Linked DNA regions of Homo sapiens: region 1 is linked to region 2. A link means that fine-mapping ties the variant in region 2 to the expression of a gene that starts in the linked region. Tissue or cell type: prefrontal cortex. Region 2 holds a variant in brackets; the other region holds the start of a gene. All regions are shown on one strand. Distances are between the middles of the regions.

The links. PIP is the estimated chance that this variant, and not a neighbour inherited with it, causes the effect.
Region 1: it holds the start of NSG1, and the variant in region 2 is fine-mapped to the expression of NSG1 in prefrontal cortex (BrainSeq, PIP 0.95).

Annotation. Positions count from the first base shown.
Region 1 is chr4:4,382,628-4,393,548 of GRCh38, forward strand. NSG1 (neuronal vesicle trafficking associated 1) reads left to right here and starts at 4,475. Exons shown (of 5, transcript NM_014392.5): 1 at 4,475-4,546; 2 at 4,977-5,131; 3 at 8,848-8,964. The coding sequence starts at 5,003. LOC112268462 (a long non-coding RNA gene) reads left to right here. Exons shown (of 3, transcript XR_007058004.1): 3 at 1,895-1,982.
Region 2 is chr4:4,422,130-4,433,050 of GRCh38, forward strand. It overlaps STX18 (syntaxin 18), which reads right to left. Exons shown (of 11, transcript NM_016930.4): 8 at 3,035-3,093; 9 at 1,389-1,458. Among named protein-coding and RNA genes, the nearest start is that of NSG1, 40 kb to the left of the region's middle. RefSeq lists an enhancer at 4,891-5,434. The variant T/C (reference allele first, on the strand shown) is at 4,905.

The DNA.
Region 1 (10,921 bases), 40 kb before region 2:
GCAAATGGATTGTCCCATTTGCAGAAAGATCCAGAGCCTAATGTCTCTCCCGATTCTGTGTCAGTGTGCCGGCTGATCCCAGTGTGCCGGCTGGTCCCAGCGTGCCGGCTGGTCCCGTGGATTGAGAAGTGGACCCAAGAAACTTAAAACCATCAGAGATGAGGATGTGTGCAGGGAGTGACTGTTGTGGGATGCAGGTTTCTTTACGGGGTGATGAAAATGTTCTGAAATTAGTGGTGATGATTGTACAACCTTGTAAATATACTAAAACCAGTTAAGCGTATACTTTAAACTGGTGATATCTGTGGCATGTGAATTACATCTCAATCTAAAAACAAGACATTTGGATGAAGCATCGCTGGATCGACGTGGCCAGGCTGCAGAAAAACAGAGCAGAACCTCTGCTGATCACCTGCCACTGAACCTCCATAGGCTGACAGCACTGGGTGGCCACCCTCCCAGCAGGACCTCATCCATCCTGGAGATCTGGCTGGCTGTGGGAGGCCTGACTAGATCCTGCAACCCATCCCAGCTCTGCAGGGAAGCCTGTGGCCGGGGACTCATCATTTGACTTCTGTGACCTGCAAAGAGGCTCATGAGGCCTCTAGGGGAAGAGTCACCTTAGTCACTCTGAACACTTGTCACATAACCAGGAAAAGTGTCTATCACCTCGCCCTGGCTCCAGCACCGGCTGCTAAGAATAGAGACCACAGGAGTACAGAATTAGAGGTCAAAGCAATAGTAATACCTAAAACAGGCACTTAAAAAAATAAGAATAGCTCATTTGATTCTCACAACACTGCTCTGATGGAGGTTTCATTATCTCCATTTATAGATGGGGAAACTGAAGCATAGAAAGGTTAAGCAGCTTGCCTGAAGTCACACTGCTAGGAAGAGAGGGACAGGATTCAAAATCGGGCCACGGCTTAGCCACTGTGTCACATTGTCTCTTGCTGTGACAGTCTGGACTTCAACCAGTGGGACAAGGGAAGTTGCTAAAACGCTTGGACCTGGAAGTACCAGGGTCATTAGAGAGCAGCGCCTGGCTGCCCTGAGGAGAGGGAGCAGGGTAGGAGTTACAATCGTACAGGCAGTGATGGGTCTGTGCCTGAGATCAGCAACCCTGGAAGTATTCCTAAAAGAGTCATTTAGGGCCAGGTGCAGTGGCTCACTCCTGTAATTCCAACACTTTGGGAGGCTGAAGCAGGTGGATCACGAGGTCAGGAGATCAGGACCATCCTTACCAATATGGTGAAACTCCGTCTCTACTAAAAATACAAAAATTAGCTGGGAGTGGTGGCACGTGCCTGTAATCCCAGCTACTCAGGAAGCTGAGGCAGGAGAATCACTTGCACCAGGGAGGCGGAGGTTGCAGTAAGCTGAGATCACGGCACTGCACTCCAGCCTGGCGACGGAGCAAGACTCCGTCCCAAAAAAAAAAAAAAAAAAAGAGTCATTTAGAAAAACTGAGTATGTGTCAACAATCTTCTGTGGCACTTGGATTTTAAATTGTTGGTGCTGGGATGAAACTGGTCCAGGGGGAGATCGCATCCCATTGATTTTCCCTTTTTGTATGTTGTGAAAATACCTGACATCTGTTTGACCTGCAACCACCATTGCAGCCTCAGCCATCCCCATTTTGGTGGCTGTGGCTTCTTCAACCTAATTTCTGCCACCCTCTGTGAATGACTTGGGTTCTCCAAATCACCACACCCTTGCAAGCTTAATGCCTGTAGTGAGCTGAATGGCGACCCTTAAAAGATATGTCCACATGCTAACCCCGGGAACCTGATTTACCTTACATAGTAAAAGAGTGAACATTATCTTATATGGCAAAGATAGGATTAAGTTAAGGATTTTGAGAGGGAGACCTTATCCTGGATTATCCCAGCAGGCCCTAAATCCTATGATGAGTGTCCTTATAAGAGACACAGAGAAGAGGAGGAGGCAATATGACTGGAGTGACATGAAGGCAGAGATTGGAGTGATGCAGCCACAGTCAAAGAATGTCTGGAGCCACTGGAAGCTGGAGGGGGAAAGAACAGGTTCTTCTCTGTGGCTTGTAGAGGGAGTGAGGCCCTGCTGGGACCTAGACTTTAGACTTCTGGCCTCCAAAGCCAGGAGAGAACATGTTTCTATTGTTTTAAGCCAAATTTGTTCCAACAGTGGCAGGAAGCTCATATACTGTCTTAACACATTCTGTTCTCCTACCTGGAATGCCTTCCCCTCTGCACGCACCTCTCTCAGGCCCACCTGTAGGAAGCTTTATCCACAGTCTTTACCCACAGTCTCTGGATGTCCTCCCTCCTGGCAAGAGGCAGAGGCCACTCTCCCACAGGGCCACTGCTCCCAGCAAAGACTTGCCCTTGTCCGTAGCTCCCTGCGGGTGGCGCTGTGTCTCATGCATTTTGCATTGTCCATGCCCTTCACAGGGCCCAGATACAATCAGCAGAGGAAGAAAACCACAGGATGAAACAGTCCCAATGACCAGCACCAGTGAAGACCCAAGACAGCACAAAAGGCCAGCTAGCAGAGAAACATGATTGTTCACCGTCCATCTCTGGGACAACCTAGGTCCTTCTTGCCTTTCTGTCCTCCTCAGTTGACAGAGTCTCTAAGGGAGGGGCAGGGCCTCCACTTTGTTCCTCCTGGTGTGGAATTCTGACCAAGTGTGTGTGTGTGTGTGTGTGTGTGTGTGTGTGTGTTTGCGCGCGCGCGTGTGTGTTGGGTTCTGTTAAATGCTTGAGCCTGAGACGGGGGGCGGGGCGGGGGGGGGTGCGGGAAAGCCATTTCCTTGCTTAAGCCCAAAGGGTTTCTCCTGACCAGTGGGTCACTCTCATGGCAGATGCCTGGGCAGATTTCTGAAGTGGAGCAAGAGAAATCTTCTCTTCTTCACCTGCTTCAGGGAGGCATCAAAGTGCCAAAAAGGTGGGTTCTGTGGGTCCCCGAGGCCCGTGGCAGGGGCCAGAGTCTGACACCCGCTTTCCCTGGGTTGGGGGCGGGGTGCCTCTGCCAGGAGCCTGGGTTCAGACCAGGCTGGCCTGTGGTCAAAGGCACACTTAGACCCTGGCTGGAGAGTTGGGGCGAGTTACGAGATACCCACTAGGTCACCTGTCAAAGACGGCTAGCCCTCCTGGGGATTTTGAAATCAGGGCACCCGCGGCAAGTTCCCAGGCTGTGCCTGGGGCTCAAGGCGGTGGCTGCTCCTGTGCTCTGGGCTTATTCCCAGGATTCTCAGACGGCTGATGGAAAACGCCCCGGACCCTCCGTAGTGCCGCGGGGAAGTCCCCGGAAAGGGTGTGAAAAAGTATCGAATTTGGGTGATGCCTCCTCCTCGTCCAGCGCCTGACAGGGCCCAGCTCCTGGCCCAGGTGCCCAGGAGGCACCGATCCCCGCAGCCGGCCTCCTCCCGCGCGGGCTCCACTCCCATTTCGGCCTCGCCCCCACACCCCATAGTCTTTCATCCGTGAGTCCTGCAGGCAGGACGGGTTGGAGGTCTGCAAACAGGACCCTCTCTGGGAAGCCGCGACAGCGGCTGAGCTCGGGGTTTGGGGGCGCAGGTCGGGCTAGAACCACCCCCCTTCTCTCCGCGTCCGGGCATCGTCCCAGCGGCCCCTCCTCTGTGCCCAGGATGCTCGGGCGGCGGCTGCAGTGGGACCTCCACCTTCTCTGCCAACCAGAGCGGAGGAACCTTTCCGCCTCCCTCCAAGCGGCGCACTGAGCGCTCTTTGCCTAGAACGACTTCCCTCCCGCTGCCTGGGGCAGCCTCACCCTGGGCGCCCACACCCCAGCCCTGGGAGAGCGCTACTCCGCCTCCCGCACCACCGAAAACCTCCTCCTCCTTTACGGGCCGCGCCTCCTTTACGGGCCGCGCCCCCTTTATACGCGGACGCGCCCTCTTTTGGTCGCCCCCTCCCCAACCCAGCACTAAGGAGCACCCTGCTCTGGTCTCCGCCACCACCCAGCGCCTCCTGGACCCATCCCCCCAAACCCTTGAACGTCCTCAGGACCCCCAGGTGAGCGCGGCGCGCTGCGGGCGGGGACCCTCTCTGCACCTCCCCGCACCCCTGGGGGTCGCTCTGTCCCTACGGTCCCCGCCTCCCCTTTCTCCTTTCTAAGCGCCTCGCGCCCAGGCCGCCGCCCGGGGTGGCGCAGCCCGCAGCCCTCCCGCTCCGGGCGCCCTCCGCCGCTCCGAGACCCCCTGGGGGCGCGTCCTCTCCCGCTCCCCTGTTCCCTCCCCCGGCTCAGGGCGGGCGCGTGGTCCCAGGGGAGGCTCCCGCCCAGCCCCGCACTCCTTTGTGCGGCCGGGCGGGCGCTGCGTCAAGGTGGAGGCGCGGCCACACGCGCGCACCCACCCGCGCGCACCCAGCCCCCGGGAGAGGCAGGAAGGGAGGCGGCGGCGCGAGGAGGAGGGAGCGGCCGTGGAGCCCAATCGTTCGCTCCCCTTCCCGGGTCCGCGCGCGGCGCCGCCTCCGCCATTGCTGCGAGCAGGAGCAGGAGACGCGGAGCTCGGAGCGCTCAGCTGACCTGCCGGAGCCGGGCGTGGGTGAGTGCGGCCGGCCGCGCCTGGGCTTGCCGAGGCCAGACCTTGCCCGCCCAGGAGCAGTGCCCGGGGGATGCCCATCTCCCGGAGTACGCGGGACGGGGCTGTGAACAGCGGGTCGCCCGGGTGCGGCGGCCCCAGGACCGGGGACCGGGTCTGGAGGTGCTGGGCAGGGGCGGCGCCCCCTTCCCTGGCCGCGGTGCGCCCTTGCGCCCGGCGCTTGGGTCCTGCGAGATGAGGGTCTAGAAATACACAGCACCACCCGACCCCCGCATCGGGCCGTGACCACCGCGTCCCCACGAGCCCTCCCCGAGACGAAGCGGGGCCGGGGAGCTCGCGGACGCCGGGACGCCGGTGGGTGTGGGTGCCCACTTCCCCCCCGCCCCGCCCCGGGTCTTGCTTGTGGTGACTCCCCCCGGCCCTCCCGCCGCAGGCTGCAGCCTCGGAGCTCCCGGAACGATGGTGAAGTTGGGGAACAATTTCGCAGAGAAGGGCACCAAGCAGCCGCTGCTGGAGGATGGCTTCGACACCATTCCCCTGATGACGCCCCTCGATGTCAATCAGCTGCAGTTCCCGCCCCCGGATAAGGTAAGCCCCCCCACGCCCCTCCACGTTGCCGGGTGTGCACCCCCAAATCTCGCACGGCGGGCGCAACAAAAGAAACGCGCCGCGTGCGCTGGGTACGCGAAGTGGGGGCGGGCTCGGGAGGCCGGAGGGAGCGCGGCGAGGACAGTGTACCCGCGCGGGATTCTGGATCGCGGGATGCTGGGCGGGGGAGGGGAGCCCTGCCTTAGATGATATTCTCGTCCTGACAGTGGAACGCGGTGGGGCAAGATTCCTTCGCGTTTTTCCTGGGAGCCTCATCCGAGAGGGCCCTGGCCCCGCAGCTGCCCTGCTCCTCCCTTGCCCCGTGGCCCCAGGGGCTCTGGATCGGGGGTGAGCCTAGGGGCGGGCGAGGCTGCCCCTGTACCTTCCCGGGTGTGGCAGTTCAGCCCGACTTGCCCCACCGAGGCGGGGGAGCGTTCTCCTTGGTCAGATGGCCCCTCCCCAGGGCTGAATTGTTCTCGCCCTTTCTGCCTGCCCCTGCCAGGCTGGCGCTAGGTGCAGGAGGGTGTGCGCGCTCACACAGGGTCTCCTTCCTCTTTGTTCCTTTTGTGAAATCTCCAAATAAGTGCCCGGGCTCGCTCAGTATTGGTGTCACTGGGAAAAACCATTCATCAACCTTTCCCCAAAGTGTTTTCTGCTGAATTTAAAGAATCTCCTCTTTTTGAATGTAGCATCCAATTAAGTAGTTTCTGTTTGCTAAGAATAATATTTCCAAGAGTTAACACTTAAAAATGTAAATAGATCTTTGCATGTCTAGGCAATTGTACTGTAAAATTCACATCTAAGACCATAGACACAGCATCTACTCTCAGCATCTTGCTGCCGCTTACGAACCACCACAGCCACGAATAATTCCCGGAAGTGCTTTTCTATTTATTTTCTCATTTAGTCCCTGGTGAAGGGGCTCTGAGCCAGGGCTCTGTCTTCGTTCCAGCAAGTTGGTGATTGCTGACGGGGTGGGTGTTGTGGGGTGGGGGTGTCCTGGTGGGGGCCCTGACCCCTGTGAAGGTGTCCTCCCAGCTTTATTGTGTGTGTCGTCTGGGGAGGGAGGCAGGAGCCGGGAAGAGGCTGGCAGCGGGGGTTTCAGTTCAAGAAAGGGGGATCAGCCGGCCACACCTGTGCCCCCCAGGCCACGGTGGTGCCACTCTGGGCCACTGATGGTCCAGGCTAGGCTTTGCAGGAGGGGCAGGGCTGCCTGAGGCCTCAGCTTCCACTCCACCCCTCCCTGTCTAGGCATCAGACTCGTCCAGTTAGCGGGGCCTGGCCCCGAGGCCCCCACACCCCCTCCTGCCTGGGCCCCCAGCTGCTCGGCTGAGGAGCAGTGGCGCCTGTGCCAGGAACTCCGTGTCCTGAGGCAGCACCTCTATCAGGTGATTCCCCTCACTTGGCCTGAGCCTCCTCTCTTGTCCTCAGTCTGTTCCATTCCAGAACCATTTGGCACAGTTGGTTTATACAGGGAGGAGGGTTTCAGGCAGGTATGAAATCCTCACCAACTAATTAGGTCGACCAGGAGTAGCCTAGGCAGCTCGGAAAGGTGATGAGTCTGCTCTCTCTGCAAGCGTCCGAAGCGGGGCAGCCAGCAGGGATGCTCTTCTCGGGTCCAGCCAGACCTTCCATCCCGGACTTCCCGCCGGGACTGAGTGTGGGTACAAGGGTTATGGCTCTTGGGATCATTTTCCAGAAGGCTTCTAAGGTCACAATGAGGGAACTGAGCCTCAGAGCATTTATGGGACATACCCAAGGTCACTGGGCTGAAGGTTACAGTCCTCCAGGATGCAGAAGTTTCTGGCAGTGCCTCTTACTCCACTGTGCTTGGAGCCAGATGTCTCTCACGTAAGACCTCTCTTAACCTGAACAACAGCAACGTGTTGCTAACGGTCAGAGTTCAGGGAGGCGATGTCACCTGTTTCAGGTGACATGGCTTCTGAGGGGTGGTGACACAGTTGGGTTATAAATGAGAATCTGTTCTGAGAACGTGTATGGAGTGCTGAGGTGCTGGGGTGCAGCGGTGACAGCAGTCACAGTGCTGGCAGCAGAGTCAGGGCTGGTCTCCCCTGACATTTGCCAGACACTTATTCTGCACCAGGAACTATTCTGCCAGTTTTACAGGTTTAAATTCTTTTAATGTGTTGATAATGCCATGAGGTCACTACCATGTTACCCCCATTTTGCAGATGTGGAAATGCAGGCACGGAGAGTTTGAGAATTGCCCAAGGTCACCTAGCCTGTTAGTGGCAGGTGGGGATAGAATCCAGGTCGACAGAATATTGATGGGGCCCCCACATACGGGAGAGGTTTCCATGGGTTTCCTCATCCTCAGCAGTAGCCTTATTTCCCATTCATTGGCCAGTCTAGGCCTGCGTGCTCAAGGTCACATGGCTAGTTGGGTCCAGTCGGGGTTTGAGGATGGCAGGGTGACACCCAACCACTGCCTCAAGCAATGAGTGCCTCACAGGGGTGGGTGCCCAGGCCAACCCATGCCAGGCACCCCTCCCTCTCCACCGCAGGAGCACTGGGTGGAAAAGGAGTTGGGGTCAGAGGCCAAGAGTGTGGTTACAAGGTTTATGGCTCTTGGGATCATTTTTCAGTGACCCTGGAATGGGCTCCGCTGTTCTTTCTCCCCAAGGCTGGCTTTGGGGGTCGTAGCACCGGATGAGAGGCCCTCTGGCTGCCCGCCTGGGGCTGACCATCCCCAGTTGCTGGGGTCTCTTTGTTCTGTCCTGGTCCCCACCATCGTGGAGAGCAGGTGACGGACTGCCCAATGAAGGGGCCTCGTCCCTCGGGGGAGAAAGAGCTTGGAGGTGGCTGGCTGTCTCTAGTGCAACAGCCTCTCCTGGAACCTGGCTTGGGGAGCGGGGTTTGGGGATTAGAGACCTATAACACCTTGACCCTGCTCTTGAACACCTCCCAGTCCAGTGGGACAGAGAAGTAAACAGTCCCTGGCAACGGGTGTGGTGAGTGATGAAGGCAGCGCCGCTGAGGCCAGGGCTGTGAGTGTCCAGGGCTGGGAGGCTTCTTGGGTCCATCTGAAGCTGCTGGGGTGTAGGGCAGATGCAAGGGCTGGTTTCCAGGTTGGACAAACATCGTTCTGCTTCACAGTAGGGGGTGGAGGGGAATGAGAGCAGGGAGACCCTTTGGGGGCTGTGGCAGGGGCAGGGGGAGAGGAGGATGTGGGGGTGGAGACAAAGAGGTTGATCCTGGATCTGTTTCCAGACAAGCTGGTGGCCAGCTTCTCCAGCCAGTCCTGGAGGGCTGTGGACAGTACCCTCAGACCTCCTCTTCTTGTGCCCATGGTGGCACAGCAAGGCCAGTGAAAAGGCAGGTGCAGCCTCCCAGCTTCCTGGGCCAAGCCAGGCTTTGGCTCTGGTGGGTGGAAGGAGCACTGGGTTAGGAGTCAGCTGCCAGGCTGCATCCCCGCCCTGCCGCCTATAAACCGCATGACCTTGGCCAATGAGCTTAACTTCTGTGCCCCTCGGTTATAATATTTCCCTCCTGGGACTGCTATCAGGATTATGAATGGGTCATTTCTCTGAAAGTCCTGCCACAGAGGAGATTTCCAAAAAGTAGTGGCTGTTCTCGTTCTTGTGAATTTCTTCCTGGCAAATGGTGACTTTGAATATGGGAGTTCCCAGACCCACCCTCTTTGGGCAGATATGTCTGAATGCATCTGACTTTTGTTTCTCTGTTTCCTGGATAAGGTGGTCGTGAAAACTAAGACCGAGTATGAACCTGACCGCAAGAAAGGGAAAGCACGTCCTCCCCAAATTGCTGAGTTCACCGTCAGCATCACGGAGGGTGTCACCGAGAGGTTTAAGGTGAGTGGTCCTGTGCTGGGTGAGATGCTGCTTTTGCCCCCAGAAGGGGTCTGCTGAGCTGCATAGATGCCCTGCAGGGAGGGCCAGGGTTTGACGCCGTTTGTCTGGGCTCATCCCAGCTGTGCACACCCAGTAGCTTGTGACTGCCTGCCAAGATGTTGTCCTTGTGCTTTTTGTACATTTCTTTTTTCTTTTCCTCTTCCAAAATGATCACATATTACTTATTTTTATAACAGGGGAAACCCACCCACAAACTGTCTTTTAGGCAAAGATTATAAACATATGAAAAATCACTTACCAAACATTACAATATTTACTTAACAGTTCCAGGAAGGAAGCAGGCAATAACAAAAAGATAACGCACAGCACTGATCACATGCCAGAAAGGGGTCCCAGCCCTTTACCTAGTGAGCTCATCTGAGCAACCCTCCTGGCACACCAGTACTATCGGTATAACCCATTTTGCAGATGGAAAGGTTGAGGCACAGAGTGGTCACAGCTCTACACAGCAGAGCCAGGATCTGATCTGCAGGGGGTCTGGCTTTGGGCCTGTGTGTATCCTCCATCCTTCCCCCCATCCCAATGGGATGAAGGGGTGCTGCTGAGAGCGGGAGGGTTCCAGCCTGTCTCGGTGGGAGGAGCCTTCTTGCCAGCCTGGCTGCCTTCAGAGGCCACGTTGGTTGAAGAACAAGTTGGGATATTGATCAGGAAACTCATTCTTTGGGAAACATGAGAGAGAGAGAGTAAAGCGGTAGCCTCATCCAGATTCAAGGAGGTGAATTGAGAGACATCAGTGGGCCCCAGGCCTTGCAGAGTGGCCCTGTCTGGCTCTCTGGTCACCCTCCACTTGGCAGTGTGAGCAGTTTGCTTGTGCTGGGGGCACAGGGACTCCCACCCCCACCCGCTGCAGTTTCCAGAGCCCCTGTGGGTATGGCATCATATTGGATCTCTGTGACAACCTTGTGGATCACAGAAGGTGGGACTGGGAGCCATCCCTGGTTAACAGATGAAGCCAAAACCACAGAGTGACTGGGGAAGCCAGGGCGTAATCTGACTTTCAGTCCCTCCTTCTTCCCGTTGCCACACACTGCCTGTCAGGGCCTGCCTGGTCCAGCGGGTCCCATGAGTGTTGCTGTGGGGCAATTACTTGTGTCAGCTCAGCAAATCCTCCCAGCAGCCCTCTGCCTGCTCCCTACTAATAGTAGGTACTATTTGTATTACCAGTGTTACAGATGGGGAAGTCGAGGCACAGAGCAGTCTGTGTCTGTCCCTGCTGGTATGTAAGGATGTCGTGTGTGCCGAGAGGCTCTTTTGGTGGCTCCTGGCTCGGCCCATCGTACGTTTTTGAGGTTCTTGGCCAGGACCAAGACATACTGATCCGAGGTCAATACCTGTCTTCTGCGCTGGCCAGTGGGATTAGCGCGTGCCTTATCTGCTGCCACTCACCTGTCCTGCCCCATTTGCACCCTGGGTTTGGCTGCTGTCCCTGGTTGAGGCAGGAGTGGCCTTGATTTCAAGGTCATGGTGTCCTCTGTCCTGATGGCTAAATGCTGTGTGATGTCTGAGTGTGTCTGGGTTTCTCAGGCCCCACTTGCCCTTTGCTTTCCCAGCCCCGGCGTTTTAGGTCCCCACAGAGCAGGGCGCAGTGCGGCACTTGAACAGCTATTCCTTCATCTGTTGAGTGTCTATGATGTGCCAGCCTCTGTCCCCGACCTCTGGTGTTCTTCATTTGCACTTTTCCCACATGACCACCTGAAGCAGGTCCCCAGGTCTCTTGCCTAAGGAATGGGTGATGCATATTTGCCACCAGGGCCCTTGGCAGCCTTGGCTGGGACTCTGTGGTTACCTGGCCCCTGTTGCCCAGAACCTGAAGGCTCAGAAGACCATGGGTGATTATGCTCATCCCAATAGACTGGCTGCTGGCAGCAGAAGCCCTGCCTCATCTCCCTGCCTCTAC
Region 2 (10,921 bases):
TGCCTCATCATCACCCCTTTTTAGAGAGTCTCAAAGTGTGAACTAAGTGACCACTGCCAAGGTTCCAATGAGAGAATCAATATGAACTACAATGCAACACTGATGGAAAAAACAAGAAAGACACATTGTTCCTCAGGACTTAGGAACTCCCAGTGGGCCGGGCGCAGTGGCTCTCGTCTGTAATCCCAGCACTTTGGGAGGCCAAGGCAGGTGGATCACCTGAAGTCAGGAGTTCGGGACCAGCCTGGCCAAGATGGTGAAACCCCGTCTTTACTAAAAATACCAAAATTAGCCAGGCGTGGTGGCATGCCTGTAATCCCAGCTACTCAAGAGGCTGACTGAGGCAGGAGAATCGCTTGAACCTGGGAGGATGAGGTTGCAGTGAGCCAAGATAGCAACATTGCACTCCAGCCTGGGCGACACAGCAAGACTCTGTCTCCAAAAAAAAAAAAAAGAAAAAGAAAAAAAAAGAAAAGAAAAAGAAACTCCCGGTGAGCCAAGGCAAGGCTCTGCCTATGCTCTGCACGCCCCTCCCAGGCCCCCTGGAGCCGCTGGGAGGTTTGAAGCAGGGTAGTGTTATTAAAAAGGGCGACTCCTATGAACCCGAACTTGCAAACCACTGTTAGACTTAATGTACCTCATTTACAATGATTTCACTCTGGCTGTGTGGTTTATGGAAAGTCATTTTGTGAGTGAAGTATCTTAAGTCAAGTAGTCCAGTTTAAAATACTGGAGAAAATTTTGTCTTTCAAACGTTCCCATAGTCTTTGGATGCTAAAAATAAAAGGGCAAATTTATCAGGTCTTGAAAAGTTTTGCCAGTTATTGGCTGGAAGAATTTCAGAAAATTCACTTGAAAAGAACAATCCTATTTCCCACGCAGACACCATCCCTGAGGTGGCATGGACCGCGCGTTGTGAGAGGCCTGGGTCTGAGCTCCTGTAACCTACTGACTGAAAAGCAACTGCCCGTCAGCATCGTGCTGGATGCTTCTGCAGTTATCTCTCAAACAGAGAATAACCCTGCAGGAGTCCCTCCCTCCTATAGATGGGAAACTGTAGCTTGTGGGGGCTACCTAGCTTACCCAGCACATCCAGAACCCTGACTGCCAGGCCTGGACTCTCCTCCCACGTGCCACCGCATGTGCTACCACATGGGGTGGTCAGTGGGTCCCCTGTGGGGAGCTCCTCCTCCATCACACGTGTGCAGAGGCAGCTCTGGGTAGTGAGAGCTTTTCCCTGAGGAGCTCTGCGCACACACACCTGCTAGCAACACATGGCTCTGCTCCTGGCTGTGTAGAGCAGCAGCCTTTGGGAAAAATGTCTCGTGCTCTCAAGTACATTCCCCTTTGAGTGAAAACATACAGCTCCTTTGTTTTTGTTTTTTTACCTGTTGCAAAACCTTTTCCGTGAATATCTCTTGGAGTCTGGAAATCTCAACCACTCTCCCTTCGATTTGCCTTCATAAAAAGAACAGATTACATATTAACTATTAGCACTTGGTAATCTAACAGGACTGTTACACACTTCTAAAGAAATCCTATCTTCTACGTGAAGGTGGGAGAGACAGGGGGCACACTGTGTCGGCTGGGGGAAGAGGAGATGGGAGAGGAAGGCGAACTCTCCTTACTGGGTCACCTTCCCTGTCTTCTGGCATAGCCTAGCACACTGGTCTTTTTGGAAGTCCACTCTACCATGCCAACTGACCCTCAGTCCCAAGAGGTGGGTGTGTGCAGTGCCCTTTGCATTCTGTGTCACTGCTCGGGGAATGGGGAGGGCCTGGTTGTGCCCCAGTTACAGAAAGCAGTCTCCAGTAAGTTCTCTGCCTAGCCTCATCACCATGGTAACACATGGTGGGGATTCAGAAGGTCAGAATATGCTGATGATCCAGCTTTGTTAATGCTCAGCAGGTTAAAGAAAAAAGTGTATTTACCTTCAAACCAACTCCCTGTTCCAAGAAAAAAGCTCCTCTGATTCATTTAGAAAATGCCATGTCTTGGTTTGGCAACGGAGTGTTCTGTCGGATCTGAAACACTTGGGCTAGCCATCTTCCTGGTGTCAGGGGCAGCATGGGCTACCCTGGGGGGCGGGTGGGGGCACATCTATTTAGAAACAGAAGCTGGCCCAAGCTGAAGTCAACTGCTGTTCCAGCACAAAGCAGCGACAGGAAGTGACAGGAGGCAAAAAGTGGTGGGAGCTGAGCTCCTGGCCAGGTGGAAGCAGTGATGAATCCCAACAGTATCACAGTGGCAGGGGGCAGGGGAGGAGATGTGGGAAGAAAAGCCAGTGAGTATCTGGGCATGGGGGAGTAGCGGGGTGGGGGCGGTAGTGGGGCAGACAGTGAAAGCTAGGCTGTCAGAGGAGGACTAGGAGGTCCATCTCTGAGGGCAGAAGGCGAAGAGCCCCTTGGAGGCTGACACCTACACTGAGAAAGTCCTCAGGCTGTGTGAGTGCAGCATCAGGATTGATTTTATTTGGGGGACATGTCCACAATACAACAGGCTCTGCAAAGTCCTGGGCCTTACTTTCAGCATGCTCCAAGCCTTCCCACAGAAACTAGAGGCTAACGGGTGCATGTGTGAGTGACCAAGGCCTTGCCTTCTGCATTCCTGACTCCCTGGTGGGTACAGGAGCAGGCAGACCCCAGTGGAACCATTTGCAGAAGAGGGCTTCCCTTGGTTAGCTGCCCTTCATAAGGGCCCCATTTCATTTCAGAGTCGCTGCGTGGAAACAGCCCGAATGGTGGTGGAAATTATACGCAGGTAATCTGTAGTCACTCCTGTATCTCTCGGGGTGGGAAGCACCTGGGCCCCCCGCAGCAGTGGCAGCAGGCAGGAGGTAACCCACAGGCCCACAAGCTGAGGGAGTTGTGGATTCAGGCCACATGCCCACCCCAGCCCAGTCAAAATGGCTGAGGGGGGCTGCACCAGCCCAAGGGCCCCATGGGGATGCCTGGGCACCAAGGTAAATAAAGTTCCTAGTTCCTGGAAAAGTTGTAAAGCAGGCTATCAGCTCACAGAGGAGCTACAAACATACCTCACTTCATCAAACAAGCTGTTCATTTCACCAATTAGTCGCTGATTTTCCTGTTCAAACTGTGAGGAAACAGACACACTCAGGATGACATCATACTGAACTTAGGCAAGAGTCTAGCAAGAAAGCGGACCTACGCTCCAGGAATCACTGCCGAAGCCCCCATTTCCAGCTGCGGCAACGTGGCAGCCGGTGCTGGACGACCGTTAGCATTAGTGTGAACAACGTCCCTGCTTTCAGGAGAAAGTTTTAAAAAACAGCTGTGCTGCCTGGTAATTGACTTCTCCATCTCAACCACTGCACTCCAGGGGTACAAGCTGACTGCTATGGCTGTAGCTGTATCTACCTACCCGCTCTCCCCTGGGATCCCACGGCCTGCTTCCTGACTCTAGTACCATTATTAAGAAAATTCTTTTGTTGTTGTTTTCTCTCATGAACTATACTGAAGGACTATACATATTTTTTAATATGGAGAAGGATCTGGTGTGGGGAGGGTCTGGAGAGGAAGGGGAGGTGGGCAGCTTGGCCGAGCTGCCTCTGGGCCCCTCTGACTTCAGAGCCTGGCCACTCCACTGCTCAACAGGGACAGAGGCCCAGAGCCAGAGGAGCGTGTTTCCCAGTGCTCAGGCTGGGTGAGGACGGGTGCCCTGACACCAGGGATACATGGGAGCTTCTTGGAGCTGAGTGAGCTTGGCACAGACAGTTGCTCTCCCAGCCATTCTTGCCAGTTTGATATGGGCCAAAGAAAAGGATGGAAGCTCCTGAAACTCAGCACAGAGAATGGACAGGAACAGCTCCTTGCCCTCACTGCAGGCCCCCACAGCCCTGTCCTCGTGTGTCCACTCAACTCCCGCAATGTGCAGGGAGTCAGGGGCGTCCTGCATTTCCTCCCCGATGCATCCCGCAGGCCCCACTTCTCCAGGACACCTACCCTGGCCCCTAAGCTCAAACTTATTTCTCATATTCCTATCCTTGGCCTACCATTTTCTGAAAATATCTTAGGATAGTAGCGCCCAACGGTCCCTTTCTGCCTTGTAATAAACTGTGCCCATCCCAAACTTCCCGTGTCACCCTGAGCTTCCTGAGGGCGGGAACTGGGTGGAACATAACTTTGCAAAGGCATTCCAGTTGTTCTTTCTTTCTTATAGATTAAAGCTGCCATCAAATCCACAAATATTTTCTGAGGCATTCTGTAAGCAGGAGTGGGAGGGATACATACAAGCAAGCCTCTGGAGGCTCCGAATCGATGGAAGATCTGGCTTATCACTTGCTTAGTAAACCAAAAATACAAGGGAAACAATGGTTATGGGAGGCAGCTGACCACCACGGGCTATGCTGGCACTTCATTCAACAGCCTGACCTTGTTGCCATTGTCCTAGGGCGGAAATGAGTTGCAGGGTCTCCCCAGCAGCCTCCTTCCCACCCAGGACCCCTCCCCTCCAAGTACCCCAGCTGTGCTCTATGCAGGCGCTCTTCACACACACGCCCCTTCCTAAGTCCACCAGTTTCGCCCCCGCACATGCACTTGCTGTATTCAGCCCTTCCCCTACCGTCCACATTCCACCCTCACCGTTTCTCACTTGCCTCCAACCTGTTATCCAATCCTTGGTCAAAGTGATCTCAAGTGCTGGTCATGCCAGAATGCCTCATGGTGGCCTTGCCCGCTGACCCTACAGATCAGGTCTAGGGCACACTGTTATCCATGCCCTGGCCACGTGACATCTCCCATCTCAGCTCTGCTCTGACAGGCTAGTTTCCTGCCTGGCTGCAGAACTCCACGTGGTCCCTCAAAACCCCAGGCATCTTCCTAGCGATCTGATACCTCAGGGCAGACTGAATCACCTTCTCTTACTTTCTCACTCTTGTTACCAAG[T/C]TCCCCTGTACTTGGCTCTTCAAGGACATTTCTCACACTTGTTCAGGGGGCTTGTCTTCTCTCTGTGGAAGGCAGCTGTCCTCCTTTGGACACTGAGCCCAGCCCAGGGCCTCACACATGACAGAACACCAGTTCTCGGCCCCGGCTACTCAAAACACAAGGAGGCATCTGCTGCACTCCAGACCCACCGGGCCAGAAAACGGGGAAGGGGCAAAGCTCTGGGAAGGGCGGAAGTGCCAGGAAAGCTCCCTGCAGGACCAACTCATCCACAGCAGGGGGCCGTGCTGGCTGCTGACACAGAATTGCTTATGGCCCCTTTAATTAGGCAAGACAAAGGCTATTTAAGAGAGTAAAACTTTCACTTTTGAGTTTGAAAGTATCCGCTCTGTTAACTTCAACAGTTACTTAAGAGGACAGTATTTAAGGAAAACATGTAATTACTAAAACATGCAGGCGCCAATTCACTTTGGCTAATTCAGGTACTACTCAGCTTTCCCTGGGTGGCGGCATTTTCTTGAATTTTTCTAATGACAAAATATGGCCCTGGCCCTGACCTTTTAAATCCACAGTCCCTTTTATGCTTTGAAACTGTTCCTAAACAAAATTAACTAGTGGTTTGGGGTGATTCATTCCTGGACTGTTCCTTGGGAACAAAGCTTTTCTTGTTTCCTCCCCAATTTGAGGGCCTGTGGTATAAGGCACTTAGGTGCGGCACCTCCTCTTAGGCCTCTTCGTAATTGTTAACTTCTGATAGCTCCATGTCCGCCCTCCACTGCACTCAGGAGTGGGATCAGATGCTGGCTCTAATTTCCTTCCACCCCACCTGAAAAATACCTAGTCCCTAGAGGAAGAGAAGCAGGTGCCTCAAGGATCAAAGGTGCTAAGGGCTGAGGAGAGAGGTTTGCCAACGGCCAGGAGTTTTAATGGAGAGCCGCCTCTGTGTTTAAAAAACAAAAGGCCTATTTCCCAGACAACTACAAGGTCACTATTACTTAAGGAGGCTGGCAGGGCCCAGGACAATTAGATCATGGCAAGGCTGCTGACAACACTGACTTGTACCAGGTTTCAGTATGGCTTCCAACGCTGTCTAAATGGCAAACCTGTGTGCCTCCCTTCGTCTGTTGCCAGGTGGCAGGCATAGTGGTGGATGTACCACGTGGATATGGGAGCCAGTTCTGGGGGCCTTATAGGAACCCTGGGGCAATGCTGGGCCAGTCACTGGCTTCTGGTGGGCCTGTCAGTTTCTTTGGGGACAGATGTGGTGATTCTTATCCTTTTCTGCCTGACCCTGAGGATGCAAAGTCACGGCTGGACTTCCAGCCCCTCACCTTCTAAGCAGTAAGCTGTTTTGGAGGTCACAATCTCTGGGCGTCTCTGTCTTTGTCACTAAAATGGGGATAGTAACAGTACTTAAGTAGTGGGGTTGTTAGAAGGAATACATGAGTGAATACATGTGAGTTGTCTACCAAAGTGCATGGCATATAGTAAGCTCTCGGTGAAGGCTGTCTATCATGATTTAATCTCTTGGGTGTCAGTTTCTGGATATGCAAAATGAGCGGTCAGATGCTGTGGGACCCCTTCTACCCTCTAGTCTCAAAGTCCTAGAGGCCTGCTGTGGCTCTCAGCCATTTCACTCTCCCAGGCACTGGGAAATGCACCCATAGCATCTTCTTCCAGAGCTCGCTGAGCCTCACTAGCTAGTATCTGTCTCTTTGTGGCCACACTTTGCAAGGTGCGGTGCTGAATGAAAGACCTGGTCTCCAAGGTCAGCACGACAGATGGGTATCTAGATGCTTTGTGAAGACAAACCTGAACACAATCAAGGAAATTCTTATTTTCCTATGGAATTGCAAAGGAAGGTGAGAGGCCTAGATGGTGGGTACGGTGGGCAGGTTGGGCCCTCCATGCATGGTGGTTGCCAGCCGCTGCTCTGGGCTCCCTGCATTGGCCCATCTGCTCTACGCTGTTACGGTCTCCTACCAAAACACAATGCTTTCCTTCAGCTAGACCAGCACTCTCCCCCACCCTCCAACCATGGCAGCACAGCATCATGTTGAACAGCCTAGGACTTGGGACCTATGTGACCTAGGGCTGGTGACTTAAGCTCTCTGTAAAACGGGGCCAGCAATACTCTCTCCATATGGGTTGCATAAATGAACATATGCTGAAGGGCTCAGAGCAGTACTTGGCACATGGTATGTGTCACATGCGCATTAGACAATATCATTATTCAACTGCTTTATCCCATTTAGAAGTCAGTTAGACTTTCCAATCAAGCCCTGCTAAAAGGTTTCTAATCTGGTTTAAAGGATACAAATCCACATTGTGAATATATTGTTATAGAAATCCTTTTCTAATCTAATCCTCTTTACTATAATTTTCAAAAGAAAATCACTCCTACAAAGGCCTTTCAGTATAAAATGACGCCAAGAGAAGTATTTGTGTCACAAAGAGCCAAGAAAAGCTGAGGAGCACAGGGGGACCATCCCAGAAAGCCCTCTGGCCCTCATAGCTCAGGAGTCCCCTGCCCAGCCCTTTCTGGACTCTTCCAGACGTGCTTTCTCTGTACCAAACCCCTTCACACTTCTGGCTGTGTGACCCTCACCTCGATCCCCTATGATCCCCATAATGTGACAGTAGACGGACTCTGCCGTATCCTTCTGGTGGAAGCCAGCATTTGCTGTGCCCCTGTAAACCTGGAACCTCCCCAGGGTCTGTCCAGCTCTCACTATGTGGTATTCAGATTCCACCAATCCTTGTTCTAGATGCATGAGCTGAAAACTGGCGAGCCCTGCCAGCCAGCCACTGGGAGTTTCTACAGGCCTACCTCAGGGGACAGGGCCTTGGAAGACGCCTTTCATGTGGATTTAAGAAACAGAAGCCACATTCATGTTTTAAAAAAATTATCCCAAGGAGTACATCAATAAATGCAGGTGGTTTTACCTGAGGCAAGTAAAGTGAATGTGTGTTTAGAAAGGGAGAAATTTTCTTGATGTAACTTTGGAAAACAATTTGGTTCCACTCAGCCTGACCACAAACACCTGCAAACTCAAAGGCATTAATATACCTGTATCATGAGTTATATAGGGAAATTTATTGTGCAAATCATATAATACCCTGCAACCATTTTGAAATATGTAATAACTGTTCCTTTGGGTGAAACAATGAATTATATTGCTATTATTGGGCTTAATTCATTATTTTACCCTGAGGAAAAATTCCGAAACAGTGATTATGAATTATGACCACGATTTGCTACAATATTTTCCAATTTAAAACCAACAGTGTTGTATTTCTTTCTCTTTATTTTCAAAGTTAAGCCTTTTAAATAAGATTTGAGTTAGTCAGACTATAAGATATGGTACTTAGCTATTATTCCCAATTAAGAAAGAAGTTAACTGGACATTAAATAGCCTGTCATAAAAGTACTGAACATTACAGCCTTCTGCCCGATCCTCTTGCAGTAACACAATAAAAATTAGGAAGTCCTGCTGATTCTGATTGCTTTAGTCATTGATACTACCATGCTAGAGCTACCAGTGTTACTGGGAGTGGCCGCTGGTGTCTTTAGACAATGACTCGGGACAGTGGAATGAAACAGAAGCATGCTGCATCAACCTCAATGTGGGGAGAGGAGCCGTACTCTGACATATCAGTTGCTAAAACACGTGCAGGGCATGCCACAATGCACAGACATGGCAGTATCCTTCTGGTGGGAGGGAGTCACCATTTGCTCTGCCCTGCCCTCTGCTGGGTGCTCTTACAGGTGCTACTGCATCCAGCGCTTGAGACAATTCTGTGGGGTATTGATTCTGAAGAGATCACTGATGGCAGTGATTTCTTGCCTCAGCTTACAAAGATAGTAAGTGGTATAAATTCATAGCCAACTCTGTCTAGTCCCAAAGCCTATGTTCTTTCATCATCCCTCCACAGGATGAGAGCATCAGGTGATTACGAATATCCTCACTGCTAGCCTTCCTCTGGTCCAACTCTCACACCTACAGGCTGCTAAGTCACGCAGCTGTAAAGGTTAACATGCTTAGCTCACCATTGCCTGCCAGAGAAAGGCAAAAATCCTCAGACAAACAACCCACACTATTGTTATTCTAGCTATTTCCTTTATGAAGAGTGGTGGAGTGCATTAAAAAAGAAAGAAAGAAAAAAAAAGCCCAACACAGAAGGTAAACTCTTCTTAAATACAAACGTATTCTTTCTTAATGAAGAGACAGAGCTGTACACATTTTTTGTCTAGCAAAGAAATGGGGCAATGGTATAATATTTGGGGAAACGACTCATTTCCACTAATACAAGGATTTCATATAAACCGGTGAAAACCTAAGAGATTTTTAAGAAACTTCTGCCATTATTTGGCTGTAGGACGGGAATATGATCCAATCCCTCTTTACATTCCTTTGTTGGCTTCTCCGCCCCAGCCTCCCTCCAGTGGAGTGTACCCCAGGGTGGTGTCCATGACCCCTTCTCCTTTCTCGCTGTTCATCATGTTTCTAGAGAGCCTCACGCAAGCCCATCCTTCAAACATCAGCTGTAAGATGTCTCCCACATGCGTTTCTCTAGCCCGAGCCCTGGAGCCCATAGACACCTCTCATGAATGTCCCACAGGCGCCTCAAACTCACACCTGTCTACATGAAATTCATCATCTCCTGCTCAGCCCCAGCCTGCCCACCTTCTGTGCACCCTCCCTCCTCCTGATGACCCACGTCAGAAAGCTCAAGGTTCCTTCCTCATCTCACACTTCAGTGCAGGCCATTTCCTACACCACAGCTCTCAACACTACCTTCACTGCCACTCCCGGCTCAAGGCCCTCCTCATCTCTCAACCTGACTGACAGCAATGACTGCTTGGAATCCCTGCGGCTGTCTTCCTCTAACCACCGACTATACAATGTGCACCTCGAGGGCCTAGGTCCCACATTTGCTGGATTTGGTGAGCACTTATTTCAAGTCATAAGGTGAATTCTGGAACATGAAAGAAGCTGGAAAGGAAGGCAAGGACCTTGCAGGGCACTTTAAGGTGTTTGAGTCATTTTCTTAGTTCAGAATTATTTTTGTCTGTAAAGGACAAAGACAGCTCTGCTTAGTATTCCAAAGAAAATATCACAGGCTCTGAAGGAGAACCCCCAAAGCAAGTCTCAGGAAAGTCAGGGCTAATGGTACCATCACTGGAATCAGTTTCAAGCTTTCAAGGCGATGATTTTAAAGGGGAAACCACTCATCTGGGTGGATAAATCTGTGTGAAACTGAATTGTATATGAAAGGCATATGAAAATGGTCTGAGCTCCAGCTGCCATCCTGCATGCCCTGACCCTGCCATGATGGCATGCATGCCACAGTCCTTCCCTGCTCATGGCACACGGGCAGCTATGCCCAATCTCTTCCATCCTGTGCAGGGAGAGGCTCTTCTGCCTCTTTGTACAACCTGCCACTCTCAAGGGTAAAGGAAGGGGAAACAGAATTTTTCAAGCACCCCATGTGTCTGGCTCTTTGTTGCATGCACCTCATGGGCCAGCTCACTCAAACTTTAGCCCCACCTGTGGGGTGGCCATTTTTTGCCCATCTCACAGATGAGGGAACAGAGGTCCAGAGCAGTGAGAGGGCCCAGGGCTGCAATGATGAGGCTGCGTGTGGACTCCAGTCAGACAGTACACTGTTCCCACTAGGCTGTGCTACCTTTTGGCTTTTTTGTCTTCACTTGTCCATGCCATTTTTAGGAAAGAGATTTGGTTTCCGTCTTTTATTTCAGGCATGGAGAAGAAACAGGAAGTCCAAAGAGCAAGAGGATGCTGAGCCAGTCCTCTGCCCTTGGCGGCCAATGCTCACGAGAGCAGACATGTGGACCTGGCCATCCCTGGAGGTCCCCAGCCTGCACAACTATGCTTACAATGACACTTCGGTGGGCCGGCGCGGCTGTTCTGACTTCTCTGCCTGGCTGGCCTGTGTCAGTGTGCCACGCTGCTCCTGTGCAGCAACACTTGCCTAGACCACCAGAACCAACTGGA